Linked DNA regions of Homo sapiens. The protein of the gene in region 2 interacts with the protein of the main gene of each other region in a biochemical or structural test. Each region holds a gene or a part of one and is shown on either strand. Other genes may lie near its edges.

The links. Proteins that work in one complex are often made in the same cells at the same time.
Region 1: the proteins of IQGAP1 (region 2) and PTPRM form a complex in vitro, tested with the Homo sapiens proteins (one study listed by BioGRID).
Region 3: the proteins of IQGAP1 (region 2) and KDR form a complex in vitro, tested with the Homo sapiens proteins (one study listed by BioGRID).

The regions. Positions count from the first base shown.
Region 1 is NC_000018.10:7,563,273-7,570,348, reverse strand, and holds the start of PTPRM (receptor-type tyrosine-protein phosphatase mu isoform 1 precursor), read right to left. Parts: upstream 3,034-7,076; 5' UTR 2,531-3,033; coding exon 2,458-2,530; intron 1-2,457. UniProt on the Homo sapiens protein: Receptor protein-tyrosine phosphatase that mediates homotypic cell-cell interactions and plays a role in adipogenic differentiation via modulation of p120 catenin/CTNND1 phosphorylation.
Region 2 is NC_000015.10:90,482,233-90,489,271, reverse strand, and holds part of IQGAP1 (ras GTPase-activating-like protein IQGAP1), read right to left. Parts: coding exon 6,991-7,039; intron 6,571-6,990; coding exon of another isoform or gene 6,550-6,570; exon of another isoform or gene 6,523-6,549; intron 5,912-6,522; coding exon 5,679-5,911; intron 5,053-5,678; coding exon 4,920-5,052; intron 3,243-4,919; coding exon 3,140-3,242; intron 2,319-3,139; coding exon 2,183-2,318; intron 1,778-2,182; coding exon 1,690-1,777; intron 1-1,689. UniProt on the Homo sapiens protein: Plays a crucial role in regulating the dynamics and assembly of the actin cytoskeleton.
Region 3 is NC_000004.12:55,077,948-55,080,601, reverse strand, and holds the end of KDR (vascular endothelial growth factor receptor 2 precursor), read left to right. Parts: intron 1-438; coding exon 439-661; 3' UTR 662-2,121; downstream 2,122-2,654. UniProt on the Homo sapiens protein: Tyrosine-protein kinase that acts as a cell-surface receptor for VEGFA, VEGFC and VEGFD. Plays an essential role in the regulation of angiogenesis, vascular development, vascular permeability, and embryonic hematopoiesis.

The sequences.
Region 1 (7,076 bases), on a different chromosome or scaffold from region 2:
GCCAATTACTACAATTTCTGGAAGAAACATAAAAAAGAAATGTGTCAATGCCACTCCTAGCATTCAGAATTAACTTCCTCAACATACAAAAACAAAAAACAAAACCCTGATTCACACCTGTACTACCTAAACGCAATATGGAGAGAAAAATAAATAATGAAGTGAAACATATCTGATCCTTGCACATATGAAATTTGCCATCTTCACTTTTCACTTTTTTTTTGAGACGGATTCTCACTCTGTCACCCAGGCTGGGGTGCAGTGGTGCAATCATAGCTCACTGCAACCTCAAACTCCTGGGCTCAAGCTATCCTCCTGCCTCTGCCTCTAGAGCAGCTGGGACTACAGTCACACGCCACCACACCCAGCTAATCCAATTTTACATTTTTTAAAGTTCAACGTTTCTGAGGCATGGCTTGGATGCTGCCCTTTACCCACTAGCATGCCAGGATAACTCTGGCTTTCTAGATAGAAAAGAAAACACATTTCACTTAATGGTATGATTAACTCAAACAAATAGATATATTTCTTCCAAATGAAAAATCAGGCTAAATTTTAGTAGAAGTCTATTTTGGCTTGACTGATCATTTACATCAGCCTTAACAAGGACATGGGTCAGTACAACTGAGGCTGAAATCCTTTTTGGTGATGAGGAACCCATGGTTTAAATAAGCAATATAAATATTTGTTTCCACTCCCTTGCACACAATTTAAAAATCCATCCAAATGATATTTGACACAGCTTAACTTTAAACAAATCCCAAGAAGGGAGTCATGGATGTTAATAAAGAGAAAACCATCACTAGGGCTCTCATACTTGGCTTCTAATACTAATGAGTTACAAGGCTCTCAAATTCTACTCTATTATTCACTAATAAGAACACAGACCAAATTCTGCATCAGTTTTATAATCAGACGACAGTGCATCATTGTGTTAAATCCTCTGGAGCACGTGCAATTACCAGGCAGTTAGGGAAACACAAAACTTGGAGAAAGGATATTTCTGTATTGAAGTTGATGCTTTGGGTTTCAAAACCTACACGTTCCACTCCTTCTCTGAGGCCAACTGTGATCAAGGGTCCTGCAGATCAGCAACACACAAGACACAACTAATGTGCCTGTGAGTCCAGAGCTCCAGCAGCCAATGGTCCTGGACCCCAAGAAAATAAAAAGGTTTCCACGCACCGGAGGACCAAAGGTTTTTACTGCTTAAAATATGCTCTTTACTGTTTATGAAAGTCCTCTTCATTAAATTCTTAAAAAGCCCAACTTACTCATTCAACTCACTTGTTCCCAAACGCAGAGACCTATTTTGCAAAAACCAAGTTTAAGACCAAAGAGCAGGCTTTTTTATTAAAGAAAAAGAAAGCCCACCGCCCCCACTGCATGTGGACCTTAATGAAACTAATCTAATAAACACTAGAAAGAAGGTGTGCAAATGGGCCAGCATTTGCCGTCTATCCACCTGTGTCACCCAGGTAATAAAGGTCATCCTGGTTGTAAACCCCTGTGACAGCGTGCCGGGTTCGCCCCCACGCCGGACCCCCGACTCCGATCCACAGATCCTCTCCGTGAGGGGTTCCTCTGGGCTTAGAACGCCCCCGCGCGCGCGTGCAGGCACACACGCGCACACACTCACACGCTTGCTCGCACACCGCCAGTGCCTCTCCTTCCCACCTGGGACCCCCGGGCAGCCGGGCTGGATGAACAAGTTGCAGCTGGCCGCGGCGCTCCGCTAGGGGGACGAGGGTGGGGAGGGGGAGCCCAGCGGGGCGCAGGGCCGTGGCCAGGGCCTGGGGACCTGCCCGCTTCCCTCCGCGGCCGCCAAGCCCTACCGCTGGGACCGGCGAGGAACTCCCCCCAGCCTCTCCGCAGACGCTGCACGACCGCGGGGACCTCCCGGGGTCGCCAGCCGCGCCGGGCAGGGGGCGACAGGGAGGGCAGGGCACCGGGAGATCGCCGCCGCCGGAGCGGCCGCCAGTTCCCGGCGATCGCTGCGGGCGCAGCCGAACACCAGCGGCCTGGGCCCGGCCGCTGCTCGGGGTCGGCGGGGACCGCGCAGCGCCTACGCCAGGCGGCCCGGCGGCTGCAACTGGGAACTTCAAGCAAAGTTTTCTGCTGTTCCTTTTGCAGCCGGCCAGGGACTCAAGAGTGCAAGCCGCCCAACCTTGAGCACTAGCCCAGGCCGCGGAAGGACGGCGGCCGAGCTGGCAGTCCCGGCTGGGGAGCTCGCCCTCGGGGTCCGTCCGCTCCGCCCGCCCGAGGACTGGGTGCCTGCCAGCCCCACGGCCCCTCGCCCAGCGCCCGGCTCACAGGCAGAAGCGGTGTCCGGCCCGCCGCGCCCCCCGCCCGGCCCCGACGCCAGCCTTAGGGCTCTACCACCAGGGAGCTGTCGGCGTCCCGGGCGTCCCGCGCCGGCCCGCGCGCCTCGGGGGCGGCAGAGGCGGTCCCGCTTACCTGAGAACGTCTCGCCCGCCGCAGTTAGCAAAAGTCCGGCCAAAGTCGCCAGGCAAGTCCCAAGTCCCCTCATGGTGCTGAGTGCGGGCCGGGCCGCTCCCCGGCGGCGGTGGGTGGGCGCGCGAGGGCGGAGGGGGCCGGGAGCTTTGGTTCCGAGGCAGCGAGGAGAGACGGGTAAACAGCAGAGCGCTAAGCCAAGCCCCCAAAGTGCCAACAGTTGCAGAAGTCCGAACTCCAGCGGCTCCAGGGGCGCGGGCACAGGGTCCTGGGTCCTCCTCCCCTGTCCCTGGCCCCACTCGGCGTCTGGCGCCGCTGGCAGAGGGAGCGGAGGGCGAGCCCGCGGAGCCAAAATCTTCCCTCGGTTCCGGTTGCTGAGCTCGCCGCCTCTCCCCTTCCCCTGCCCGGGACCCGGGACCCGAGCTGCCGGCCGTGGCCGTGGCGGTGGCCGTGGCCGTGGCCGCGCGCGTTCCGCCCGCCGCCTCTCCACAGGCAGCCCCAAGCCCAGCCCCGGGCGGCGGCGCGCCGATGACCGAGCCCGCGCCGGCTGCGCGCGGGGCTCTTGCTCCCCGACTGACTGGCGGTGCCCCGCAGGCCGGCTGAAGGGAGCGCTCACGTCACGGCCGCCCGGCGCCGCCGCGGCCCGCTAGAGGGCGTGAGCGCCCGTGCCCCGCCGGCCCGCGCCCGAGCGCCTCCGGGAGCTCGGCTGGGGGCGGCCCCGCGGCCACAGCCACTACCGCCGCCGAAGCGGGCGTCAGCCGCGCGGGGAGGAGCGGCCACCGGGCTCCCCCCGCCCACCTCCTCGCCCCGGCCGCGTCTTCTATTTTGGTAGCTGGCTCTGGGGAGGGTGACTGTGGAAGAGGCTGCGCCGCCGCCAGAAGTTTGTCCCGGGTCACGAGCCGCGAGTAGTTTGTGAGCGCGGCCGGGCGGGACCAGCGGCCTGCGACCCCGCGGGCGCGGCCAGGCGGCTTCGAGCCTGGCGCCGGACGGCGATGTCACCGCACAGGGCCAGCTGCACCCGGAGTCGCCGGGCCTGCGCTGCTCGGCGGCTGCGGGAAAAGCGAGCCAGGAGATCGCTGAGGCTCCGGAGGGCTGCGAGCTTCTCTACGCCGCGGGCGGAGCGAAGTTGGCGGGCGCCGGGAGATGGCGCGGGAGCCGGGAGCGCCGAGCCCCGCGATCGCCAGCCCGCTCCCGGCCGGGCCCGCCGGGTACACGCCGCTGGCCCCGAGCACTGGCGCCCGGGAAGCAGGGCGCGCTTCTGCTGTTCTGCGTCCTCATCATGCCTCGGTGTCCCGTGTGGGCCCGAAGCGAGCCGCAGGCAGTACACGGAAGGCGGTGGTCACACCAAAACCAGGGTTTGGACATAACCCGTGGTTTCTGTATCTGGTGCAAAGTGCTGAGAAACAGGGGAGAAAGAGAAGTGGGGGGTGAATCAAGTAATGTCTTGAAATATTTTAGTTTTACGATTTTGGGTCTGAGTGAATTAAAAAAACCTTACAATGCTTCAGCAAAAAATAATTTTTTTATTTTAATTGTAAATTTTTTTGTAAGTGATCCTTCTATCTTCCAGGGAATAAGCACATTGAGCCAGCACCAACCAGACAGCTGTAAGCTCCTGGCCTAGCTAACTGAACGCAATAGAAGGCTTGGGAAGAGGTTAAATTAGGAACCAAAGTAACTGAGTGACAGGGTTCTAGCAATGATTCTGGCTAGAAGGCAAACCGGTGATACAGAGGCACCCAGGAGCTCTCCTGCACTTTTTCCGCAAGAGGGGTCCTCTGCTTAGTGCTCACTGCTTTCTAGTGCTTATAAACACGTAAAAAAATAAATGGATTCCACACTCATCTTGACCCTGTTCTCCACTGTACACCAGAACCAAGAAAGATACAGCTGTCATCCTCCCAAGGCAAATTTGGGGACTAGAAGACTTGCCTTTAGTGTGGCAACCAACACTCCTCTTACTTCAGGAAGTCCACTTACTAGATACTTACCAGACCTGCTCTTTAGAAGTCTCTATATTAATCATTTGCTTGTTAATATGAGCTTACATTGTCCTGCCACTTCTCCCAACTATGTGCTTATGGAACCTTATCTTTAATTGTGAAATGAACATTGAAATCTCAGAAAGGAAGCAATGTCTTCAAGATCAGCAAGTGAGGATGGTCAAATCTGCAACCTGGGCTTTCCATTTTGATGTACTTGTGTTCTATACTGCAGTTCAAATTTGCTTTAAAAAAAATTAGTAATAGGCTTTCCAATGGAGTTTTTCTGCTAGTGGGAGGACAGAGGTGGAAGCTAGGGAGACAAAAGTTGATCTAATCACTTTGCTTCAGAGTAACTTCTTTAAATTAGGTGAAGTTAATATTAGGGTAGGATTTCATTTGCAAAGTATTTTATTCTTTCAGCAAATATCTACTGAGTCAATACCATATGTCAGGCACTGTGCTAAGTACTGGAGGTTGTCTTAGGCTGGGCTCCCTCAGAAACAGACCTGGAGGTTAGGATTTAACTATAAGTGGTTTTGAATTGGGGAAGTGATCCCAGAAAGCACTATAAGGAAGGTGAGACAGCAAGACAGAGAAGAAAAAAAAAAGCAGACATCGATATGAGATGTGTCAATAAGCAGGTTACCACTATGGGCAAGGGAAACTCAATCCCCCTGCGGGGGGACGATGAGGAGCTGGATGGAAGAGGAAAGGGCCACTCTACGGACCTGCCACTGAGGCATTAGACAGAAATCCCTGCCAGTACTCCAACTGCTGCTGCCACAGGACTCCTCTTGGTAACCTCTACAAACCCTGTCCCTTCTGCCTGTTACTTAAAGCTTAGTGGGAGGGTCTGTAAATTTCTATTACCCCTGTTCTCTATCTTTACACTGTTAAGTTGACTCTACCCTTTGCAGCCTTCCATCCACATTTCAAAGGGTGGTGGGATTTTTGCCAGCAGCTTCTGCCCTCTCAATTCATGACAACTACTGTTAGTTTACTCCCTCTTACAGGTAACTGGTCAGAGCAGCCTTTGAGCCTAAATGGAAGTCCTCTGCTGAAATGAATGGATTGGACTTCCTCTAAGGAAGGGATGCTGTAGGAATCCTCCCAGTGGGACATTTGCTTTGACTTGTTTTTTCAGCAGTAGAGATTTAGTTTTAACCACATTTCACTCCTGACTCACTGAGGACAATAGTGACATTTGCAGAATGGCTGCTCAGAGTTAGGGGTGCTGTCAGGCCAGCCCCTGACATTGGTAGGCTTGGGCAAGAGTACAAATGCATAGCCACTTACCATATGCCTAATATTTCAAAGTTATTAATTAAGCTAGCAAACTACTATGTATATTCCTACCTTGACACATATAACAATAAAATTGAAATATAAAACCTACAGATTTTATATGACAAAAAGCAAAATATCAGCAACTGAATTATGCATATCTGCTAGACATTATACATATCTAGATTTTCTTTGATAGGCTATATGGATAAGTAATATACATGATTCATATATATTTATTCTATAAAATTGATATTTCTCTTTAGTAAAATCACTGTGTTGTTATAATTGAGATTTTCACTTAATTTGTGTTCCATTGACAGCGGTGATTGAAAGCTTTGCTGTTCTGTATGGTAGCACCTAACAGCATTTCAGGTGTTCTGTTCCTCAGTGACACTAGCTACATTTCAAATGCTCAGTAGCTTCATGTGGCTAGAGCTAATGTATTGTACAACATGGAGAGAAAACAAGTCCATCATCATAGAAAGCACTATTGAACAACATTGATCTAAAAGATTCATCTATTCAGGCCCCATGTGGTGGCTCACACCTGTAATCCCAGCGACTCAAGAGGCAGAGGCCAGAGGATCACTTGAGGCCAGGATTTCTAGACCAGCTTGGACAACATGGCAAGATCCTGTCACTACAAAACAGTTTTTTAAATAGTCAAACATGGTGGTTTATCCCTGTAGTCCCACCTACTCAGGAGGCTGAGGCTGGAGGATCATTTGAGCCTAGGAGTTTGAGGTTGCAATGAGCTGTGCACTCTACACTCCGTCTGGGTAAAGAATGAAATCCCAATTCTAAAAAATAAATAAATAAAGGATTAATGTAGTCAAATCATACAAAATGTTTGTACTTACACCACAAATGTAAATTCCTTTTTTTATTTCAGAAAATTAGAATTATTTTTCTATAGTTGTTAAAAGTTTTCTTTCAAATGATTTAAAGTTATCTATTAGAATTAAAATGCAAAATACAAATTATGACAATGAATATAAACACTGAAAAGTTATTTTTTTAAAGCATAAACATTTTATTTAATATTTGGAAATTTAATTACACCTTATTAATGTGTAAATAAAACATAAACTTAGCAATTCTAGCATTCATTGTCCACCTGGTTGCTAACATAAATAATCAGTATTATGTTTCATGTGTTATAACTTCATATCTACCATTTTAACAGTAACATTAATTAGTTAATTTTTCAAAATATTGGCCAATCACCACGTTCAACCGCATGCAAATGCTATACTGCTGTATGACTTCTGCCAGAACCATGAATTGTAACAAAAAGAGAAGCAAGAAAATGAATGTTTGGCATTGCTAGGAAACCCTCATTATTTAAGA
Region 2 (7,039 bases):
CCTGTAGTCCAGCTACTCGGGAGGCTGAGGCAGGAGAATCGCTTGAACCCAGGAGGCGGAGGTTGCAGTGAGCCAAGATCACGCCACTGCAGTCCAGCCTGAGTGAGAGTGAGACTCTGTCTCAAATTAAAAAAAAAAAAAAAAAAGAAACAAGGGTCTTAGATATGACATGACTCATCCAACCCTACAAAATGCCAGGACCCAACCATCTGCCCACCCCACTGGACCTTATCACACACCTATATGACTCAACTACATCTGCTCTAATAGCACTGCTGAATTAATTAACTTTTATTAAATGGTCTTCAACCTTACAGAGGCTCTTTATTCCTTATCTCTGCAGTGACAAATTCCCATCTAGTTTGTGAGTTCTAAATAATTTGGTCTCATGTTTTATTTCTCACTACTCACCTCCACCCACAGCTCCATTCTAGACATGTAGTCTAGTCGCATCATGCTCTTCCCTCCTTTGTACCTTTGTTCACATCGCTCTCCTGCCTCGAATGCCCTCTCTTGTCTTACATGCACACCCAAATCCTTTCCACCTTTATACATCTGGCTCCGGTTCCACTTCTTTTAGGAAGCTTCCTAATGCACTGCTTCACTGGCCTCTTTCCTGAAACTTCTCTTATTTTTCAGTCAGTAACATAGTTAATTTTGAAACAGTTCATCACTGTTTCAGGTATATATGTCACATTTCCCCAACAAGACCATGGGTTCACTGAGTTTAGGAGCCACATTCTGTACTTTTCTTCTATCTACCAAGGCATGTAACAGAATTCAAAATATATAATATTCAATAAATTGCAGTGAACCCTACACATTCATGGTTTCAACCAACCCTGAAACTGTTTGAAAAAAAAATACAACAATACAAAATAATACAAATTTTAAAAATACAGTAACAACTATTTACACAGCATTTATATTGTAGTAGGTATTATAAGTAGTCTAGAGATGATTTAAAGTATATGGGAGAACGTAAGTATATGCAAATACTACAACATTTTATTTATTTATTTATTTATTTATTTATTTATTATTATTTTTTGAGACGGAGTCTCGCTCTGTCGCCCAGGCTGGAGTGCAGTGGTGCGATCTTGGCTCAATGCAGGCTCCGCCTCCTGGGTACATGCCATTCTCCTGCCTCAGCCTCCCAAGTAGCTGGGACTACAGGCATCTACCACCTAGCCTGGCTAATTTTTTGTATTTTTAGTAGAGACGGGGTTTCACGTGTTAGCCAGGATGGTCACAATCTCCTGACCTCGTGAACTACCCACCTCAGCCTCCCAAAGTGCTGGGATTACAGGCATGAGCCACCATGCCCGGCCAAATACTACACCATTTTATATAAGGGACTTCAACATCTATGGATTTTGGTATTGGCCGGGGGTGGGGAGAATGGGTGCTGGAAAGAATCGCCTGTGGATACCAAGGGATGGATATACGGGATGGGCACAATGATTCTGCATGCAAGTGCCAGTGAGCTTCCTGTCCAAAGGACATCACCTGGACTCAGGAAGCAAAAACTTTCTCAGACGAGCCATAACTACCACTGTCCCCCAGTTACATTCATGCTCACCCCTAGGCTACCAACTGTTATTTGTGTCTCCCCTCCTTTCTCTGACATGCGCCTATCGGGAGAGCTTATCTACCAAACAAAGGAGTATGTTAGACCCTAAATTTTACCTGTTCACTGGTGGCTGGTGTTTCTAGGATTTCAGTCAAGGTCTCTCCTGGCTGGAACCGGATGACATCCACAATTAAACGTTTTGTACTGAAACGAGATGGGGGAGGCATTTAAATATTACCAGTGTTCTAGTTCCTCTCAAGTGGACCGAAGCAGCAGCAGCAGCAGCAGCACAAACAGTACCTCACAGAAGTCCCAAGCGGCAGCTGCCAGTACACAGTACTCAAGGCACAAGGCTTATTTACCCAGCCATTCCATAAGTAGGTACGAGGGTTAGGATTTCCAAGATTTACATTTCACTGTAGCATATTAGCAAAATAAGGCAGATAAGTCCTGTACCAAGTACAATATGCGAGGTGATTGGTGACTGGGATTATGACAAGTACGAGAGGTCAGGATGGTCATTTCAGGTAGGACCCAGCAGGTTCCTCTCCAAAGGCCAAGAAACCTTCAGATTACATTCATTTCATTCTTCCTTCTTTTGATACTCACTTCAGTAAGATGGTTCGAGCATCCATTTCTGCATTCTCATCTCCAGGCACGTCGAACTTGTTGGTCAGGGTGAGAGACACTTCCGTCTTAGCCAGTGCCTCCTTATTTGGGTCATTTAAATTGCCAGAGCTTTCCCCTGAAGTTTTGGGAGGGTGGAAAGAGTCAGCGTAATAAAGAGAGGAGATATTGGGGGGAAATAATACAAATATAAGATGATGCAAGTCTAAGATAATACTTGAATCACCTAACACATACAGTGTGACGAGAACAACTTTTACTGAGAAATAAAATGTTATGCCAAATGATAAAGGCAAGGGATCCATAATAACTCCATAAATGTTTGAGAAATCATTTCAACACTACAATATCACAATTCTCTCTGAAAACATTCTTTCTGGCTGGGTGCAGTGGCTCAGTCCTGCAATCCCAGCACTTTGGAAGGCTAAAGGAGGAGGATGGCTTGAGGCCAGGAGTTCGAGACCAGCCTGGGCAACATAGTGAGACTCCATCTCTATTAAAAAAAAAAAAAACAACTCAGGAGGATCACTTGAGCCTAGGAATTTGAGGCTGCAGTGAGCTATGACTGCACCACTGTACTTCAGCCTGGGCAACAGAGGGAGACCCTGTCTCATAACAAACAAACAAAAAAATTCTTTCCTTTAGAGGACTTTTAATTTATGTATCTGCAATTTTTTTAAAAAAACACAAGCTGGCAGTATGTATCTGCGTTTAAAATGATCTTTTCCTCTGACTCCAGTTCCTTATAGATATTGATCACATCTGGGCTTTTGTTGTTGTTGTTGTTTTCTCTCTTATGAAACTATCAGGATCACATCTATTTTATTTCTCAATGTATATCCAGAGTTTGGTATAGTGCAAAAAATAGAGGAGGTGACAATTACAACACTTTTCTGTCACATTCCCTTTTGATCTTCCAGGCAAAAGTTAGAACTCTACCTATCAGGGACTCGATGGTGGGCACCTCGCCGAGGTCGTCCAGCAGTTCGTGGATTGGATCATTGTGCTCCGGAGCAATGGCATCCTGGTGATCCAACAGGAGCTGCAAACACCAATGATCAACTCCATTTATACATTCAACTCTTCAGCCCGTCCCTCCCTAGAATGTCTAACAATGATCTGCACAAAGAGGTTCCAACAAAGTTCCTATATTCAAAGAAACAACAAGCAAATCCTCAGCAAACTAACCCAAATAAACAATATGATATATAAGGCACCACACCAGGCTCTGTTGAATGACTTATGTTATGATATAAGAAGAGGAAATACTGGTATTCTCTTAACCTCATGGCCATAAAGGATTCAAATGTGCCCTGTTTGAGAAAGAACACTGGCTGGGTGCAGTGGCTCACGTCTGTAATTCTAGCATTTTGGGAAGCCAAGGCGGGTGGATCACCTGAGGTCAGGCGTTCAAGACCAGCCTGGACAACATGATGAAACCCTGTCTCTACTAAAAATACAAAAATTAGCTGGGCGTGCTGGTGTGTGCCTGTAATCCCAGCTACTAGGGAGGCTGATGCAGAAGAATTGCTTGAACCCAGTAGGTGGAGGTTGCAGTGAGCCAAGATTGCGCCATTGCACTCCAGCCTGAGTGACAGAGCAAGACTCCATCTCAAAAAAACAAAACAAAACAAACAAACACAAAAAACCCACAAAACACTGAAACTCAAAGTTCAATACCCAAAGTCATCAATGTACCCTACTGCCAGTTCAAATAAGTCACGTGCACGCTTTTACTTAATGTTTCCAGTGTATGACATGATTTAATTCAGAGAAAAGTATACCAAATCAATGTTATAATTATTGTAGGGGCACTCAACAAAGTCTTCAAGGTGCCATTATCCCCAGTGATGCCCTCAGAAATGACAGTAACCTGAAATTTCATTTACATTTTAACATATGCCCTTGTTCCTGTTTTACATGTCCATGTCCCCAGAGGGGAAAAAATGATTTGAAAAATCTGAAGAAACATGGAGCTCCAGCTTCCAAGGGAAAAATCCACTCCAAGGCTACACAGAGAAAGCTAGTATTCTAGATCATGTTAGAAAAATAACGCAGAGAGCTAGGGTAAAAAGAAAGAAGAGTAAAAGCACTATTTTATTAAGGCAATAGATAAATTTAGTGGGATTTTGATTCAGTAGGCCTGGGGCGGTGTCCAGGAAACTTCATTTTTAACTATCAGCCCATAGGATTCTGATGCAGGTGGCCTGGGAAGACCTTTTAGAAACTTAGCAGTAGATACTGTTAAGAATAACAAGCAAAAGGCCAGGCGTGGTGGCTCACGCCTGTAATCCCAGCACTTTTGGGGGCCGAGGTGGGCAGATCATGAGGTCAGGATATCGACACCATGCTGGCTAACACAGTGAAACCCCGTCTCTACCAAAAATTCAAAAAATTTAGCCAGGCACGGTGGCGGGTGCCTGTAGTCCCAGCTACTCGGGAGGCTGAGGCAGGAGAATGGTGTGAACCCAGGAGGTGGAGCTTGCAGTGAGCCGAGATCGCGCCACTGCACTCCAGCCTGGGCAACACAGTGAGACTCTGTCTCAAAAAATAAATAAATAAACAAAAAAGAATAACAAGCAAAAAAAGAGACATCAAGGAGATGCATTGTCAGTTAGATTACAGGAAGGTTAGACACCTGGCTACCAGAGATGATAAGCAGCAGCCAGGGATAATAATTAAGGACAATGAAATTAAGTAATTAAAGAAAAATACTTACAGTGTGGGTGTTGATGATTTCACCAATGGAAATGTAGATTACTGGTTTGGTGAGGGTTACTAAATCAGAGTACTCATCCACATTAAATTTATCCTGAAGCTCTGGGACATCACAAGCAGTTTGGAAAAACCGTCTGAAATAAGCACAGGAGGCAGCCCCCCAAAAAGGGACATACACATGAAGTTGGCAAGAGGACATTTCACAAACCTCTCACACAATGAGTGCAAACAGAAGCCAGTCAACAGTTACTTCAAGAGAAAGTGCTGTGTGTTTGCTGTGCTTGACAACCTTGGGATAGTGGTTCGAATAACTTCTTTCTCCACCTAGTTTGTAGTTTTAGTTTTACCCATAAGAACCATTGCACCATGACTTAAAAGTTTCCAGACACCATTAGGAGAACCAATTCTATCTCTAAGACAGTGCTCTGAAGCACTGAATTCAAAACTAGATGTTAATTTACAAAAATTAAAAGCATTCTCCAATTCTTCTCTGATTACAAGGTAACATGTACTAAATGCATAATCATCATTATTTTTATGTTAACTACTATCTATTTCATAAGTGTTAACTACTATCTATTTCATATGAAAATTCTCTTCAAAGTAAATGGATCATCTTCTGGAATCCTGGGCACATCAAACACGTCTTCTACATATGGCAGTCCGGGGAAAGTGAGAGGTGGTTTTTAATCTTATTTTTCCCCTCAACAATAAAAATACATCCACAGACTCTCTTAAGCACTTGTGCCTTTCCCCTTACCTGAATTTCTGGTAGGACTGGGAAAGATATTCATTAATGATGCTTAAGTGGGCATTATCTCCCAGAAACATCTTATTGGAAGCAGCATGCTGAAGCATTTTTGCAATGGAGCCCAGATTTCGGCGTTGGTCTGTGGTAAGCTGGCCTCCTGCTGACAGGTCAATGATGTCAAAGGCATCAGGAGCAACAATGGCTGGATTCATGTATCGATAATAAAGCAAGTTACCAATAATCTGGAACAGACGAAACAGAAAGATGGGTATTAAAAGACATACCACCAAGGAAGCTATAAATGACTTTGCTAGCAAAGAAAAGCAGAAAATGCAGTCCTATGAGGAAAAAATAAATAAAAAATACATATACACACGCATGCATGCACATATACACACTCTCTCTCATGGCCTGGAACTAAATGAAATATCCCTTTGTTCAATACAGGAAAACAATGAGAACAGAACTGAAAACTACTGCCAGTAGTTAATGAAAGAGCAGATTCAGAAGGTAAAAATGACACACTTAAAGTCTGTTATTAAGTATTTCAGGGCATCTTTTGTTCACATATCATGGTAGCAAATAAGGCTGCTGTCACCCACATGCACTTTGTACTTTCATGTAGATGGGCTTTCCTTATAAAAAGCTAACAAACATAGCTAAATTCCTTAACATGACCCAATCAGCATAGAGTAACCCCACCTCCCAACATTCTCATGCTGCAGACTTCAAAGGCCAAGTTCATGCCTCTGAAATTAAATTCACTTAACACACATCTCTTCCACAGAAGAATTCAGGGGCAGTCACAGCATTTCCCCTAGAGTTTCATTCAGAAGAAATAAAATTAATTCACCTGAACAGAAAGTCTAGAATCGAGGCCTCACTGTAGGAAAGCACAGAACTAGGAGAGAGAAGAAAAAAGCATTCAGATTAAAAAAAAAAAGAAAAGAGAAGAGCATAGCTGAGTAAGAAAGAGTTATCAGCAACAGCCTTAGCAGAAACAACTGTGCCTGCTACTATTCGCCAGGTCACCAGCAGAGGGAACAATACTACAGCGAAAAGATAGGACTCAAAGAAACTCATCTGAAAACAGGAAAAATCCATCTTTCTACTTGTTTGATGTTTGTGTGCCAAACTATAGGAAGTGTTTCATCCTAAGAGAGGTACCATTTACCAATTACAATTGCTTTCAAAAGCTCACAATCAATGGTAAGCTACTGCCAGAACCTACACTTAGGCAGTTAGTAATGATCTATGGTCAGCCCTGGTTTTATTGCTTTGTCCTCAAAGGGCAGGAGTCTGCCGGCTATGAGATTCTTACCTTCAGCAGCTCATCCTCACCAGCATCAGGGAACTTCTCATGCAACGAG
Region 3 (2,654 bases), on a different chromosome or scaffold from region 2:
CATGCCCCGTAATTCCCAAATTGCCACAATAGGAAAAGCACAAGTGAAATTTAAGAACATCCCAATTTCCTTGAATATCATGCAAGTGGCCCTTTGGCGCCTGTCACTGTATACAAATTTGTCAATCTGCGAGGCCATAAACATGTTCCATCAGTTGGGGCCTTTGCATAACTCGAGAGAACTGCCTTTCATCTCATTTGAGGCTTGAAAGACTTGGACCTGAGTAAGAGGACTTATCTGCAACTACTAATTCATGCGAGTACCTGAAAATAGACCTTGTCCCTGTAAACCTGCTATGCTGATTAACAACTGGGAGAGATACGGGGCTGCGGTCTCCAGGGAGATGGCAGCCATATGGAGTTGGGAATGGGGTGAGGGTAAAAAGCAAAAGAATTGTCTTCTCTCTGCCAACTCCTTTGTTTGCCATTTCTTCTGCAGTGGAATGGTGCCCAGCAAAAGCAGGGAGTCTGTGGCATCTGAAGGCTCAAACCAGACAAGCGGCTACCAGTCCGGATATCACTCCGATGACACAGACACCACCGTGTACTCCAGTGAGGAAGCAGAACTTTTAAAGCTGATAGAGATTGGAGTGCAAACCGGTAGCACAGCCCAGATTCTCCAGCCTGACTCGGGGACCACACTGAGCTCTCCTCCTGTTTAAAAGGAAGCATCCACACCCCCAACTCCTGGACATCACATGAGAGGTGCTGCTCAGATTTTCAAGTGTTGTTCTTTCCACCAGCAGGAAGTAGCCGCATTTGATTTTCATTTCGACAACAGAAAAAGGACCTCGGACTGCAGGGAGCCAGTCTTCTAGGCATATCCTGGAAGAGGCTTGTGACCCAAGAATGTGTCTGTGTCTTCTCCCAGTGTTGACCTGATCCTCTTTTTCATTCATTTAAAAAGCATTTATCATGCCCCCTGCTGCGGGTCTCACCATGGGTTTAGAACAAAGACGTTCAAGAAATGGCCCCATCCTCAAAGAAGTAGCAGTACCTGGGGAGCTGACACTTCTGTAAAACTAGAAGATAAACCAGGCAATGTAAGTGTTCGAGGTGTTGAAGATGGGAAGGATTTGCAGGGCTGAGTCTATCCAAGAGGCTTTGTTTAGGACGTGGGTCCCAAGCCAAGCCTTAAGTGTGGAATTCGGATTGATAGAAAGGAAGACTAACGTTACCTTGCTTTGGAGAGTACTGGAGCCTGCAAATGCATTGTGTTTGCTCTGGTGGAGGTGGGCATGGGGTCTGTTCTGAAATGTAAAGGGTTCAGACGGGGTTTCTGGTTTTAGAAGGTTGCGTGTTCTTCGAGTTGGGCTAAAGTAGAGTTCGTTGTGCTGTTTCTGACTCCTAATGAGAGTTCCTTCCAGACCGTTACGTGTCTCCTGGCCAAGCCCCAGGAAGGAAATGATGCAGCTCTGGCTCCTTGTCTCCCAGGCTGATCCTTTATTCAGAATACCACAAAGAAAGGACATTCAGCTCAAGGCTCCCTGCCGTGTTGAAGAGTTCTGACTGCACAAACCAGCTTCTGGTTTCTTCTGGAATGAATACCCTCATATCTGTCCTGATGTGATATGTCTGAGACTGAATGCGGGAGGTTCAATGTGAAGCTGTGTGTGGTGTCAAAGTTTCAGGAAGGATTTTACCCTTTTGTTCTTCCCCCTGTCCCCAACCCACTCTCACCCCGCAACCCATCAGTATTTTAGTTATTTGGCCTCTACTCCAGTAAACCTGATTGGGTTTGTTCACTCTCTGAATGATTATTAGCCAGACTTCAAAATTATTTTATAGCCCAAATTATAACATCTATTGTATTATTTAGACTTTTAACATATAGAGCTATTTCTACTGATTTTTGCCCTTGTTCTGTCCTTTTTTTCAAAAAAGAAAATGTGTTTTTTGTTTGGTACCATAGTGTGAAATGCTGGGAACAATGACTATAAGACATGCTATGGCACATATATTTATAGTCTGTTTATGTAGAAACAAATGTAATATATTAAAGCCTTATATATAATGAACTTTGTACTATTCACATTTTGTATCAGTATTATGTAGCATAACAAAGGTCATAATGCTTTCAGCAATTGATGTCATTTTATTAAAGAACATTGAAAAACTTGAAGGAATCCCTTTGCAAGGTTGCATTACTGTACCCATCATTTCTAAAATGGAAGAGGGGGTGGCTGGGCACAGTGGCCGACACCTAAAAACCCAGCACTTTGGGGGGCCAAGGTGGGAGGATCGCTTGAGCCCAGGAGTTCAAGACCAGTCTGGCCAACATGGTCAGATTCCATCTCAAAGAAAAAAGGTAAAAATAAAATAAAATGGAGAAGAAGGAATCAGACATAATTTCCATGTGGTTGTTTTACATTTTTACTGGTTTTCTTACTCTTCTTATAAGGGATATTTTCATAAACTGATTATATATTTTACAAACCAATAAATGTATTTGTAGTACAAAGTATGAGGGTATAATATCACCACAACTATTTTGAGGATAAGTATGTCTGGTTTAAAGTTTAACTGCTTCTTCCCTCTTCTTCTTCATTACAAAGAATTCACACACACACACACACACACACACACACACACACACACGCCACGCATACACCCCCCAACACCCACACCTCCTCCCAGCCCCCCCACACCCACACA